Linked DNA regions of Homo sapiens: region 1 is linked to region 2. Evidence: fine-mapped expression QTL. Tissue or cell type: tibial artery. Region 2 holds a variant in brackets; the other region holds the start of a gene. All regions are shown on one strand. Distances are from middle to middle.

The links. PIP is the estimated chance that this variant, and not a neighbour inherited with it, causes the effect.
Region 1: FHL5 starts here. The variant in region 2 is fine-mapped to the expression of FHL5 in tibial artery (GTEx, PIP 0.90).

Annotation. Positions count from the first base shown.
Region 1 is chr6:96,558,392-96,566,496 of GRCh38, forward strand. FHL5 (four and a half LIM domains 5) reads left to right here and starts at 4,737. Exons shown (of 6, transcript NM_001322466.2): 1 at 4,737-4,964.
Region 2 is chr6:95,599,082-95,607,194 of GRCh38, forward strand. MANEA (mannosidase endo-alpha) reads left to right here. Exons shown (of 5, transcript NM_024641.4): 4 at 5,746-5,822; 5 at 6,667-8,113. The coding sequence ends at 7,324. Among named protein-coding and RNA genes, the nearest start is that of MANEA, 26 kb to the left of the region's middle. The variant C/A (reference allele first, on the strand shown) is at 4,864.

The DNA of each region.
Region 1 (8,105 bases), 960 kb after region 2:
GGAGAGGCTTCTTTCAAACCTTCTAAGAATGAAACTGACTTTCAGGCTTTCAGAAAAACAATTTGTATTACACTTACATCATAAAAAAGAAGGAATAACCACTGTAAACATGTATTCAATGTTTATAAGTTCCCAGTGTTGTATTATTTGTTTTATCAAACTTGCCCCTAGTTGCATCTCTATTTCTCTGAAGTGATTAGTAGTAAGACAATCTGGGTGTTTGTTTTAAGGAGCAGGAAAGACAGGATTACATTGATGGTGAAATGGAGGAAAGGGAGAACATGGTGAATTTATGGACTTGGCCTAATTTACTCGATCGTGTATGACAGCTAAATACTAGGAAGGCACATATCAACTTTAAAGGTATGTTTTACTTTCAAAGAAATAACAAGTCAATAATTACAGTTAAATATAGTGTCTTGGTAAAAGTACACAGAGGGTGTTGTGACAAGAAATGAAATTTAGACTGTGTTGCACAATGGGGAGGCTGGAAATAACACCTGAACCAAGAGTCCAGAGAGAAAAAAAGAAGGATTAGCCTTGGTGAAAATGAGAGAAGGGAAGGAGAGCATATTAAGGCAGAGAAAAGGAGGTACAGAAGTACTATGACGCTAATTAGAATGAAATAATGAGATGTGGGGAGCCAAGAAGTCTGAGAAATATAATAACTGATCTGGGGAAGTAGTGTAAGATAAAGTAGAGAGAATAGGGGGGTTTTGAAATGCCTTAAACACTAAGCTACAAAGTTCAACCACTATCTCAAAAACATGGAAGCCTTTAAAAGATTCAACTAACCAGGGAAATTAAGTAATTACATTTGTCTTCTAAAAAAATTACATTCTGGAAAGCAATTTGGCAATTTACCAAAATTCTTTAAAATGTACATATTATTCGTGAAATTAATGTCTTCCTTTTCTGAGAATTAAAATGACTAAAAAATGTATACGAGTCTTTTTTCCCAGCCTCTAGTAGAGAGGAACATGGACACCTTCTCTTGCACAGAAACAGGCCAATCTTGGCTCTGAAATAGTCTATTCAGATACTAGTCTGCCAAAGAAAAACTGCGATCTGACTAGTCAACCTAAGACAAAAGTCTCAAAGGTTGTCTCATGTTTTGTGTTACTCAATGTAAAGAAGTAAAAGTGCTTTGTCAAACTGTTTTACTACTGAGCCTGTCTTTACTCATCTAAAATGCAGTCCTTAACCTAATTCTATCATACAGACTTCAGAGTTGGGTAAGAACTTGAAGACTTGACACATAGAACATATTGTTGTTTAAATACAACCTAATAAATGTAAATGTACTTAAAGTCAATGTTCTAGATTTTTCTCCTTTCCTCTTTTCAGTCTTAATCTCAGTCCTGTGATTTGTATGTTTTAAATGCTGAGTGTATCTTTTGGTGTTGAAAAAAGAGAGAAAAAAAAGGAGAGCTATTCCATTATGTATTTTATTACATAGCAACTATTTGTTATAGCCACTTTAAAAATATTTTATTGGCTTGTCCATCAGTGAATGACTGGATAAAGAAAATGTGGCACATCTACACCATGGAATACTATGCAGCCATAAAAAAGGATGAGTTTGTGTCCTTTGCAGGGACATGGATGAAGCTGGAAACCATCATTCTCAGCAAAGTAACACAAGAAGAGAAAACCAAACACCACATGTTCTTACTGATAAATGGGAGTTGAACAATGAGAACACATGGACACAGGGAGGGGAACACCACGCACCGGGGCCTGTTGTAGGGTGAGGGGCTGGGGGAGGGATAGTATTAGGAGAAATATCTAATGTAAATGATGAGTTGATGGGTGCAGCAAACCAACATGGCACATGTATACATATGTAACAAACCTGTATGTTGTGCACATGTACCCCAGAACTTAAAGTATAATAATAAAATAAAAAATATTTTATTGGCTTGGAAAATTACAGTATATTAAGTGAAAACAAGGATACAGATTTATAATGGGGTTCAGGATGCACTACGCTAAAATATGGCACCTTGGTGTTTGAGAAAACTCCAGAAGCAGGAAGATCATTCCCACCTTCCCTTTACCCTTCTCTCCCGAGGCAGGTCATAAGACCCTCATTCAAGAGACCTCCCTATGCCTGGAAGAAAGGAACACAAAGAAGAGTCTAAACAAACAGGCCTTGCTAAGTTCCCCCGAGTGTATAATCATTAGACTATATCCCCTTTGTCCAGTCATACTTTTCCATGACTATCCACTCTTCATCAAATCTAAGCATAAAAATACACACGTTTATCTCTTGCTTTGAGTCTTCATTTCTGAAAGGCTCCCATGTCCCATAAAAACTTACATTAAATAATTTGTATACTTTTATTAATTTGCCTTTTTTTATAGGGGCCTCAACCATAAACCTAGTAATGGAAAAGAAAAATATCTCGCACTTTCTACAAGTATATACAATGTGGTCTTGGTTTTCTAACTAAATATACTGCATAACTATGTTATGCAATATATTTACAAAAAATTTTAGCATTTCTCTGTATCATTAATATATGAATGATACAAAGCCTAAAGAGGTACACAAAGATTTGGTCTGGGCTGTCTTGGATTGCAAATCATTTTACATTTTACATTTTCTGTATATGTTTTCCAGTTTCTGTTCCAGATTATCTGCAAGAAGCATGTATTTTATAATTTAACAAACTTATTTAAAAATAATATTTTTCTATAGAGAAGGATAGAAAGGGATCAGGCTGAGGCAGATGCCAGTTATTTTATGGCTGACAGAATAATCTGAGTGAGACATGTGAGACATGGAATGCAGGGGTGAGGACAAATTTGAGAAAGATCATTTAACAAACTAGAACCTACAGAAGGTGGACAATGATGGGGATGGTGGAGGATAAATGAGGAAAGGGAATACTCTAACATAAGGGGTGGATGATTGTGCCATTCCCTGAAGTAGGAAATACAGCAAACTAACAAGTTTGGAATGGGGAGAAGACAATAAGGATATTTGGGACTGTTGAGTTTGAGATGGCTGGGGACCCCTAGACAAGGTTTTCTAATAGATAGCGGGATACAGGTCTGGAACCTTGAAGAGTGGTATCAGATGAAAGTACACATTTGGGAGTCATGTTGTATAAAATTGTTCATTGTTTTGATGAAGAACGTGATGGAAAGTCTGCAGAGAAGCATACTGAACAGAAGATAAAGCTCTAGGGAAGAGTGAGGTGAATAGAGAGAAAGTGAGGGTGCTAAGAGCAAACAGAAAATCAGAAGGGTGTAACATAGCAAAACCAAGGGAAGATAATTTCAGAAAGAAATAGACATGGCCAGAGATGAGAATTTTTCGGTAAGACTGAAGACCATACTCTTTGGGTTGCTAATCAAGGTTGTATATGATCTTAATGAAGCTTTTTTGGAGCGGTTCAAGTGAAAGACAGATTGCAATAAGTTGGGAGGGAGAAGAAGGCTCAGAATGTAGTAGGTTTGGAATGACTTGGTGGATGTAGATTACCCTCTCAGGAAGCATGGGAGCAAATAAAGAGGGTGATGGTCCCAGGCACTTTTACATCTCAAGGACTGCTTTCCTTGCCCATAAAACAAGGAAAATACAGGCAGTACCTGTTTAGCAATGGTGTCCTAAGGATTAAAATCTATTACTAATGAAATATACTTGTGTCCTTTTGCTGAATCCAAATTTATTGTTGTTAGTCGCCATATGTTCATTTTCATAATGTCTTAATCATTAAAGTCAAGTGAATAACAAAACATACAGTTAACTGGCTCTGCATTTCTCTAGCTCAAGTTCTTTGACTGTATATACCCGAGTTTGACCTTAGAAGATATTAACATTTCATTCCTTTAGCAGTTAGAACAAGGACAGTTTAAGTTTGGTCTGGGATTAAGGCAGAATTTCTTCTCTCATCCTGCCTTCCAAACTGAAGAAATGGCCTCAAATGGAGATTCTAAGAGAAAATGTCACTTGCCTTATGAATCAGTGTGCCCCACTGAGGATACCTATTATGGATTGGTTTAATATCCAAAAATTTCTTCAGATCCAACTCTTGACATCTCTGTCCACTTTTTGTGTTTTGAAGATTTCAAAAGACTCAATGAGTTTATGCTTTATGAAGTCATAGAGCCATGGATGTGATGTCACAATTGTGGCCAGCTCACCAGGAAGCAGGCAGAGCGGGGAAGGCTGAGTCCACACTGCAAGTCCAGAGAGCAGGGAACTACCTTGAGTATTCTACTCAAACTTATGTCTCAGAGTTCCCCAATTTCCCAAGAAGGGAGAGATAGAGGCCACAATCCAGGGGGCCATCTCTTAAGGTACCAATAATTTTGCAGGTAAGAGCATGGGACCTCATCCCTTTCCAGATGGCCTCAAAAGGAGATTCTAAGAGACAATGTCCAAAAGAAAAGCTCAGCGGTTCAGACATTTCTAACCTAAAAGAAGGGTTCTGATCACCACCAGAAAACAAAGAAAACAAAGCCAAAAACAGATTGAGGAAACAGAAAATACATCATCCTTTTAGAGTATTATTTTTATAAATATGCCCTTAATTTAGCCTAGTTAGTGGAAATTTCTCAAGTGTGTATGCGTCTGTGTGAACATTGTGTATTTTAAACTTTTTGGAGCTTAGCCAGATACTTCGAATGCTAATCCTGGCAGAATTTCCCTTTAAGGATGTCCTGCAGAGAATTTGTTACTCATAGTTTTAAGTAAAAATTGACAAATAGTGCTTTTTCAGCCCAGTAGGAGTCATGTACACGGTATAAGACTTGGAGGAAATGCAGGGACCCTTCTGTTTTCTCCTGCAAAGTTGAAAAAGCTGCATGCAGTTGGAAGGGATCTTCAGATGGTGCTGGTGACTTTCTGTTCCTTTTGGAGTTGACATGCATGTGGATTGGAGGAAAAATAATCAACATATATTCTCCTTTCGTACTGTTTAAATCACAGGAAGAAGCGGCTTTAAGACAAAGTGAGTTCTTTCCCCCAAATATTTCCTTTGTTTTGTTTTGTGGTATTTTGACTTCTCTAATTTTTTTTTAAGGATGAGAAATTTTTATAAACTTTCCAGTAACTACTTAAGAGAAAACTTTTGCTTGGCAAAAGTGTATGCCTTTTGAAGTTTCTTAGCCATTTTAGCTAAAGGTTATCAAATTTTATATGCTGAGCTTTTCAGATTTCTCATTCTTATAACTTGCATGTGGAGGTAACATAGGGGCCAGATAACTCCTTGGAATTGCCTCTTGAGTTTTTCTAATGGTCTTAATGTGGGGTATAGCTTTATTGTTGTAAAAAGAGGAAGAAGAGGAGGGCTCTTGAGATTTTATTTGGCTTAATTTATTTGAATGAATAACATTATCACTGAGCATATTTTATGACTAGATTTATATTTCAAGAGCACATTTTGAAGTCACTTACAGGTTTTAAGTAAAAGGAGTTAATGAGATTCCTGCTATTTTCAAGAAAAATCTGCCTACTTTCCAGAAGTGGGCATACAAAAATTCATAATCTTTAATTTTCTAAGGTTAAATTAAAATATCTGTGTTTCCAGCCCACAGAAATATATAATAGACTATATCAATCTAAAGTGCTACTTCTTGAAACAGAGGTAGTGTTATTCAGGCAAAAAGCATACATCCCATATGTGTTAATGCTTTCTCTCTCACTATTTTAGTCATATCCTCTTTGGTACCTATCATTCATTTGAAAACCAAATGCAGCTCCTCAGCTGTCATTTCAGACTTTAGAAAATTGGAAACTAAAAAGAATTATTAACAAAATGCATAGCTCTCATACATAAAATGTAAGGAAATCCTTGAGCCATTTTAGCCCTCATTTTATATCCACAATACCATCATGTGTAAATACTAGCATTTTTATTAGCAAAGCATATGGATTAAAATTTAACATAGGTATTGCAAACATATGTATCATACAAGATATTTCTTAACATATGTGTTATGATATATGCTTTAAGCCATAATCCAAATTGCTTTAAGGGGAAGGTAAACTCTAGTGTCTGTTTTCTACACTTGTTCTATTTATTCTCACATTATTATTAGTTGCCAAATCTGGGACTGTTCTACCTAAGCAAGAGTAGTAGATTTGTGTTTTAATATAACACCACCTCACTGACAAATTTACCTCTTATTTTTATTACACTTACCAACATTTTGAGTAAAGCTGAATTAATCTGTGTTTCTTACATAAGACTGGGTACTTTTCTACTATAATATTACAAATAAGAGTTTAGAAAATTTAGAGATTTAGAGAATATTTAGAGACAGATATTTAATTTGTCTGTTTTTATTTTTTCAATCGAGGGAACATGATCTCTTTAGAAATGAAAGCTGAATACTTGGGTTCGCATGGGAAGCTCTGAATCAGATATTAGTTAAACCAGCTTGCATTTCCTTGTTCTTGTAATTATCTTTTTCCTCTCCAATTACCATAATTTTTCTTGGTTACTTTTTGGTACCCTGAAAGCTCATTGAAGGAGAGGAAGAGAAGAAAGAGGTAGAGGAAGAGGAGGAGAAGGAGGACTCCTTTTTGCCCAACATGCCTCAAATCCCTGCAAAATAATCAGCTTGAGGCCAGGCACGGTGGCTCACTTCTGTAATCCTAGCTTTGGGAGGCCAAGGTCGTGGGGATCACTTGAGCCCAGGGTTCAAGACCAGCTGGGGCAATATAGGGAGACTCTATTTAAAATAAAAATAAATAATCAGCTTATTGATGACATACCCTAGTATTTTATATGAACTAGTAAAACATTCTTATGGGTTTGGGTTTACCTTATCCTCACCATATGTCTAAACTTTCACATGGGCTAATTACCCTGATTAGAACATACTAGGATATGTCAACAGCAAGGTTTACATTCATTAAATAAATAAAGCTAGAGAGTCTCTTTGAAAACAATAGTGTGATGTGGAGAACAGAGTCAAGGTTTTGAAGTGTCATTCATACTGAGTTTTCTATGAATGAGGGCAAGTGAGTTTGCCTCCCTACCTTAAAGATATAATTAAAACAGCTGTGTTATAGAATTTTATATTAGAATAATAATAACAGTAGTCATTTTTATTTTTTGTCTTCTCAAATTCTTCGGTTATACTTCCAGCACCAATGGACCTTAAATTTATCTCACTTGATTTTTAGCAAAGCTTTGAGCGATTCCTTTGCATATTCATTTTGCCAAAGGAATACTCACCAAATGGATCCTGAGTAGATTATTTTGATATATTCAGGTTGTCTCCTCCCATTTAAAAATATACCTTTTTGTATTTTTCCAATATCATTGCAATTATAATGCTCTAAAGATGGTGGTGTGGAAGTGGAGTGGAGAAATATGCTTCTTGGGCTTGTTCTCCAGCTTGATTTTGTTTAACTATCTCTTACAATTATTCATAAAACAATTTAAGTAACATGTCATAAGTCACATGACTTCTAAGATTTTTTTCTTCTTAAATTTTTTCTTTTTTGCTTTTATTAGTATTACTATAGACATGTAACTGTACATATCCATCAGGTACAATGTGATATTTGTATACATGTATATGACAAATTATCAAATCAGGGTAAATAGCATATTTATTACCTTATTTTTCATTTCTTTGTGTTGGGAACATTTACAATCCACTCTTCTAGCTATTTGAAAATATACAATAAATTGCTAATTATAGTTACCCTATAGTGCTATAGAACACTCAAACTTATTCCTCCTATCTAGCTGTATTTTGTATTTCTTAACCTACCTTTGGCTATCTCTTTCTTCCCCCTACCCTTTTCTGCTTCCAGTAAGCACTATTCTGCTCTCTCCTTCTATGAGATTGACTTTTTTAGCTTCTTCATATTCATGAGGACATGCAGTATTTATCTTTCTGTGTCTAGCTTATTTCACTTAAAATAATGTCCTCCAAGCTCATTCATGTTGCCGTGAATGACAGAAATTTGTTCTTTTTTACAACTAAATAATACTTCATTGGGATATATAGCACTTTTTTTAATCCATTCGCCTATTGATGGAAACTTAGGTAATTTCATATCTTGGCTATGTGTTGTGAGTAGTGCTGCAATAAACATGGGAATACAGATATCTCTTTAACATACTGATTTC
Region 2 (8,113 bases):
GTCTGGCACAGAGTAAGCACTAAGTAAATAAAACTTCATTGATTATTTAAAGAAGGTAAAACATGGTTATCTTAAGAGATACTGAAAATTTTAGGAAATAAAAATTCATTGTTAATGAAGTCCTTAGTAACCAAAGTTCTTTAGCTTGATAAAGGGTGTCTCTTAGTATCTTATTTCAAACACTATATCTGATGGATATACTACACCTGTAGTCCCAGCTACTACTCAGGAGGCTGAGGCATGAGAATTGCTTGAACCTGGGAGGCAGAGATTGCAGTGAGCTGAGATTGGTGCCACTGCACTCCAGCCTGGGCGACAGAGTGAGAGTCTATCTCAAAAAAAAAAAAAAAAGTGATGTAGGTTCTTTTAACTAGAGACCACTCTGAGATTGCAACCACTCTTAAAATTTGCTGAAGCTTTTTATTTGCTCTGTAACTTCTTGCAGTTATATTCTAATGGAGGACAATCTGGTTTGTCCAATACTGGTAATTGAGCCCTGTAAGATATGTTATGGACCACTGTTGAAATATTTCGTTTCAAATAAAAATGTGAAACATTAGTTTTGTCTTAATTTTCCTTTTGCAGCCTAGAGATTGAGTAGTTATTGGAGAATAGAAATGGAACTGTAGGGAGTGAGAAAGAGCTAAATAGGCAAGCATTTTTTTATTTCTGTCCATAAAGCTGCCTCTTCTTTCTGATTTACTATCCTGAAACTGTTAAGACAGCATCTCTCAAATTAGCTGTCTAGCAAGAGCTGTCACCTGCCATGTCCCTTGGTGCCTTTCAGTGAGTTCTTATTGGCATTTGAAATCTGCAAATAGGCAAGCCTCCAGGTTCTGGTGCCCAGGCTGAGGTTGGGTAAGTGATTGATTTATCTTCCACAAAACAAGCCCAAGAGCTGCTTTTCTGTCCAGGCCCTGCCAAAATCCTGGAAGATGGAAGCTCAAGAAACTGGCTATTTTAGTACTTTCAGGAAGTTTTGAAAGAGAAAATGAAAATGTTATGATATATGAGGATTGGTTGGCTTTTTCTCCTGTTTAAAGTGTCTGTGTAGAGAAGGAGAGTGTGGCAAAGAGCTCGACCACTAATTGCCTATTTAATGTTGCCAGCATACTTGATCTCTCTGTGCTAGGGATTTTATATCTAATGATCAGAAAAACTTGGAACACGATAGACTAATGTTTTCCAAAATTTTTAGAACAGTTTCTTGGCCTCGTGTATGGTGAGGAACTATGTATAGACAAAGAATAGACCTGGAATCATGAGACTGGAGCTTGTTCTAACTGAGTAGCTCTGGAATCTTATATTAGTTCCTTGATCTTCTTGGCTTATCCCCTTCATTTGTACAATGACAATGAAACCATAAGATAGTTTTATTGGATTTGTCTATGATTTCTGTTGTTGTGGAACAGACATTTTTCCTAACTCAATAAAATGCAGTAAATCCTGTTTTTTTAAAGAATGGAAAACTTTCCCTTTTCTTGCTAATATAAGGAAATTTTAATATGTTTAATGAATGACAGTACCTTACTAGAATTATTCAGTGTGCTAAGGCAATCTGATAGGAAAAGATTAATGATGTTGTAGATTGTGTGCTGACAAATTGGAGCCTCCAATGCACATAACTGACCACATCTAAAACTTTTAAGTGTAAAATGCGTTCATTAGTAACATCTCTTTTTTCTTGCTAGTCTTCAAAGCATGGAAATACTAAATGGATGGAGAATTTTTAGGGAATGAATCCGTCTCACAGTTAAACTTTTGTTATAGTTCATTCATTTTGATTATATAATGTTTTTACTAATATTAGTCATTAAATATTTTGTAATTGTAATTTTGATTTGTTAACTTCAACCAAGAGTTATTTTAAGTAAGTGCCTTTTAAATTATAAACAAACATGCAAGAAAAGGAAATGATTGGTGCTTTAGTTATTTTTCATTATCTTTAGCAAATGTGACTAGGTTTTTTTTTGGAAGTGTAAATGAGTGAAACTAAAATTTAAATCTTGATTTTTCAAAGCGATTTAGTTTCTGTTCTTTTAAAGTATACTTGTCTGCATGTTTGCTAGAGCAAAGGCTGTTGCACTTATAACTGTCATTTAGTAGGCTGGTTTTGCAGAGAGTGTAAAAATCAGGGCTGGATTCCTTCCTCTATATCCTGCACCATTAAGAACACAGCAACGGAACAATTTTTTGAGTAAGACATGACAGAAATATTTGGTAGATTCCGTCATTGTTTAGCAAATAATCTGGTTTTCCTTCCCCTGCATGCAAAGAGTAAGTATACTTCCTGCCCTGTTGTTGTTGGGTTTGGCCTTATGGCTTGCTTTGGCTGATGAGATGTGAGAAGAGATAATGTATACTATGTGCTTGCATGATTATGCTCTTATTCTCTTTTATAAGAAAAGCATGCCCCTTTCTGCCTAGGACTCAGAATGACAGACACGTGGAGCTGATTTGAACCAGCCTGGAGCAGAACCATCATAAGCCAGTTCATAGATTTTATGTTCGAAAAGCAAATGTTTGTCTTTTAGAGCCACTGAGATTGTGGGGTTGTTACATGGCATTATCTAATCAAAACTTGACTGAATTAAATCATTCATCTAAGTAAAAGAAAATTAGGCAGATTCAGTGATTTTTTTTTTTTTTTTTTTTTTTTTTTTGCTTAGGATTATAGGGGAAAGAACCAACTCAGCCCTGGTGATCTTCTTTCATTTTAATAAATTTAGTATGTTATTTTAAAGTAGCATATTTTCTTTCTACTTTATGCAGAAATCACATTTCTTATACTAGGTTTATCAACATCCATTATTTCTTTGCATATGGCTCTAGAGTCATTTTATCTGCTTTTCAGGCTTATGCAGATTTCAACCATGTGAAACATGAATATAAGTATGTCCGTGATTCTTTTTTAAATGATTTTCACCTACATTTGAAACATGTTATATTAGTCATGGCCTCTCCTTTTTCTTTTTCCTTGTTAAATGAATATTGTGAATTCATGGCAGAAACTTTGGGAATCTTACCTAAATCCAGTATAAGTGACAGACTTAAGAGTTTAACTGTTGTTTGTTTTTGCATGCAAATCATTAGTCCATTTATTTATGCATGCATTCATTCATTTAGCACCTGCTACGTGTCAGATACAGTCCCAGATGCTGACAATATTAAGAAGAAGGATGAAGTATTATCTCTTTCCCTAAAATGCCTTGTAATCTACTGGAGGTCAGACACAAAGACAAGTAAATTTCAGGAAGAGAAAAGTATGAGGTATTATGGCACCACATAGGAGTAGGAAGACCTACCTCAATTTTGTTGTGGCAGGGGATAGGGGAGTGTGCAGGGGTGAAGGTAGAGAATAGAGTTGGAGAAGGAGAAAGTTATCAGATTTTCATTCAAAAAAGTTCATTTTATTAAAATTTATTTATTAAAGTTATTAAAATGCAGGGTAGGGAAGAGACAGGAAAGGTCAAAATTAAAAACATGAAATGAGGGAATGTTTATATTCTTATTCTTTAAAGATAAGAAAGACATTTCATTTTATGTATAGAATTCTGTTATTTTAAAATTTATTTTAACATTGATCTAATTGATTTTTCCAAATGGAATAGAGAGATGGAGACTAGATCACATCATTAATTAAAATTGCAAAGTAATGGCCGGGCGCGGTGGCTCACGCCTGTAATCCCAGCACTTTGGGAGGCCGAGGCGGGTGGATCATGAGGTCAGGAGATCGAGACCATCCTGGCTAACAAGGTGAAACCCCGTCTCTACTAAAAATACAAAAAATTAGCCGGGCGCGGTGGCGGGCGCCTGTAGTCCCAGCTACTCGGGAGGCTGAGGCAGGAGAATGGCGTGAACCCGGGAAGCGGAGCTTGCAGTGAGCCGAGATTGCGCCACTGCAGTCCGCAGTCCGGCCTGGGCGACAGAGCGAGACTCCGTCTCAAAAAAAAAAAAAAAAAAAAAAAAAATTGCAAAGTAATTTTATTATAATTAAGAAATTAGAAATACATGAGGGAAAATTTTAAATATTTTATACTTATCAATACTATATTTACTTTAAATATATTGATCTGCGCTTTACAAAAATAGCATGCTATTTGTTGTTTGCAGCTGTAAAAGCAAATTCATTTTGATATAGGATATTTCAAGTTGGATATTGCTTAAATATGGTGTCCTTTATGTATAAAATGGAAATTTAGAAAACACAGTGATGTAACTGAAGGAAGAATTACCCAAGGAAACATTATGTAATAGTATGAAAATACCTATACACTAGGCAATTTGCTTTCAACTGAATTTAAAAAGCAAATACCAAAGTTATTGAGAAATCTAGCTGCCCTAGCAGTTACTACCCTGGCAATACTAACAATATGCTGCAAAAATTAATTTGACCTTAGTTTTTTATGACAGAAACTTACTTTTATAATATTACTGTAATCTCATTTAAAGTAGAAAATTATATTTTTTTTAAATATTATTTAACTTTAAAATTAATTATGTGAAAACAAGTAGCACTGATTAATGTAAAATACATTTTGCTTTAATTGGGTAATTGAAAACAGAGGAGTTTCATATTGCAATAGAAGTCTCTAGTTCCATAAATACATCATAGAGCCTGAAACCTAAAATTAAAACAGTATCAATACATTTATTAGACTGCCATAAAGATTTTTAGTTGATGTTGGTAAGTCAGTAAAACTAGGAATAAAAGTGAAAATCCTCATTCTTTGTTTTATGAATCTGAAATAGATTGTCATCTAAGAGAAGTATCTTCTGTATTTTTTACCTTACTAGTTAGAAGTAGCATACAGAATGGTTTTACTAGCCATAATTAGTTTGTCTTGATTTATGTATAGCCAA[C/A]CTTAAGTTAAAAAATTTTAGTCTGTGCACAGTATTTTAAAAATATTTGTAATTACTGCTCTCTATGTTTACATATATATATATAATGTATGTATGTGTGCGTATATATGTATGTAGGTGTGTGTGTGTGTGTGTGTGTGTGTGTGTGTGTATGGGATATCCAAACCATAAATACCTAGGCATCATGAAAAATGTCCTTTATAACACTAGTGGATATTATTTTTAAGCGATTTCATTATAAATTCTTTAATAGAAGTTAATGTATATTATTTTGTAAAATGCTGTTTTAATGATATGGAAGAATTTATATGTAAATAAATTTGCTAATGACTTCTATTTAAATTTAAGCTTAATGGTCACATGCCTGAAAAAAATCCAGATTTTTCTGGACCATATTTTTTTGGTCTTTTTCCTAAAAGAAACATATATCTGAATATAGAGTATTTCCTATATATATTATATGGGATACAAATATGTAAGAAACATTTTTATAAGGAGTAAACATAAAAAGAAGCATTGCACAGCAGTTAAGCATTTGAACTCGGAATTCAGATCATCAATATTACCTCCAACAAACTGGGTGACCTGGAACAACTTACTGAACCTTTCTTAAGGTTCTGTCTATCTTTGATTACCTCACTAAGAAAACAGAAATACCTTAGGGAGTTGTGAAGATTAACCAAGATAATAATATAAAATGTTTAGCATGTTATTTAGCAGTAAATTTTATTGGTAAAAATTCTCTGGTAGTTTCTGTGTTCAATAAATATTCATCTTTAATTAAGGTGATTAAATCAGTTACTTTATTAAATATATTAAGTATACTTCTAATTTTACATTATAGATAATTTATCCCCTAACTGATTTTATTGTTTGTTTTAGGTTACTTTTCACATAGAACCATATAGCAATCGAGATGATCAAAACATGTACAAAAATGTCAAGTATATTATAGACAAGTGAGTTTCTTCAATATTTATAAATATTGTTATATTATCCAGTGATAATTATTGTTTTAAGAATAGTACATTAAATTATATTTGAGATTTGAATGATTTATGATTATTCCATTTTTAATAAAATTAAATTGTTATTGTAATGAATGTCACCATCATTTCGAAGAACATTGCTGAAGTTTCTTATAATTCACTTTCTTTTTGGAAGATTGCTGTTTTTACTGTTTTACAGGTTTATAGGCTATTTATGATTTCTGTAGTTTTGATATTTTAAAATGACATTATTTTCTAAACCTTCAGAATATAGCTTTATCTTTTTAAAAAGAAGGTTCAGATTATTAAAAGTGAACTACTTCTTTTAACACAGTAGACCCAGAGCTGATATTTTCATTTATATCTAGCCTGATCAAAAAGAATTTATTAATACAGTTTTCATTTTTTGAAAGAATTTTACTGATAATAGTCTGTGACAGATGCCATAGTCTTACAAAGAAACTTGTCAGCAACAGTAGAACATTTATCACTGATAGATAAAAAAGCAGTTTAGGTATTATGTAGAGTATTATTTATAATGTAGAGACATAGGCTTTTTATGGCATTAGTCATCATTTGTAAACCTCAATATGAGATGGTTAATACTTGTTTGGTAATGCATCCAGTATCTCATTTTCTAATGTGTAAAATTAAAAATGCATTTTTAATTATTACACTTACACAACTGATTCCCCTAAGAAATGGAGCAGTGTGCTCAAACTGCACTGACTCCTTCATTTTCAGTAAACAGTTTTTGTCTGTGGCAAATTAGTTGTGAATATTCATTTCACTTTTATATATGCTTATTTTCTAGATATGGAAATCATCCGGCCTTTTACAGGTACAAGACGAAGACTGGCAATGCTCTTCCTATGTTTTATGTCTATGATTCCTATATTACCAAGCCTGAAAAATGGGCCAATCTGTTAACCACCTCAGGGTCTCGGAGTATTCGCAATTCTCCTTATGATGGACTGTTTATTGCCCTTCTGGTAGAAGAAAAACATAAGTATGATATTCTTCAAAGTGGTTTTGATGGAATTTACACATATTTTGCCACAAATGGCTTTACTTATGGCTCATCACATCAGAATTGGGCTAGCCTAAAATTATTTTGTGATAAATACAACTTAATATTTATCCCAAGTGTGGGCCCAGGATACATAGATACCAGCATCCGTCCATGGAACACGCAAAACACTCGGAACCGAATCAATGGGAAGTATTATGAAATTGGTCTGAGTGCCGCACTTCAGACACGCCCCAGCTTAATTTCTATCACCTCTTTTAATGAGTGGCATGAAGGAACTCAGATTGAAAAAGCTGTTCCCAAAAGAACCAGTAATACAGTGTACCTAGATTACCGTCCTCATAAACCAGGTCTTTACCTAGAACTGACTCGCAAGTGGTCTGAAAAATACAGTAAGGAAAGAGCAACTTATGCATTAGATCGCCAGCTGCCTGTTTCTTAATGCATTGATTAAAGTTTAATAGTTATCAAAATCACCTAATTTTTAAAAATAGCTTTCGTTTTGAGTTCTGGAAAGAAAACTGTCAAAATCAGTATATACTATTAGTTATATTTAAAAATATTTTTTTAAATTCTTTACAGATAATATTATACTTGTTACCCTTCACAATACCACATGAGAAAATATCTGAGACAAAATGTATACAAATATATTCCTTATGGCATAATTTATTGCATTTCTGACTGAAATCAAAATTCTGATTTGATGGCAATTGAATTTTCATTTTACAATAGATAAATGCTTGTGCTACCTAAAGCACTTAGCACACAGTTAAATTATATTTACATCCTAGACCCAAATAAATAGGATTGTGTGTATATTTGGGATATCTATTGAAGAAAAAAAGAAAACCCCTTAAAGATAATGTACATGCTTCATGTCATGTCTTTAAAATAATTTAATCAACTTTATTGTCTTAGTATTTAGACTCTGGATAACTCTACAATAATGAGGAAATTCTTAAGAATAACAAAATCACTGTACCTTCCTCTCAATTTTGCTGTGAACCTGAAATGGCTTTAAATTAATACTCTTATTTTTTATTTAATTTAATTACATAAATTAAACCTTACCATGACCAAATTGTGTTAGGACGGCCTGCTATCTACAGCACAGTGTGTCATTTGCAGATTTGTGGTTACCTATACCACGCTAGGTGTTTTGACATGTTTAGTGTTTCTGCTTTACAGTGCTGAATTCCATATTTTAGAAGCTATGAAAGTCCTTTTA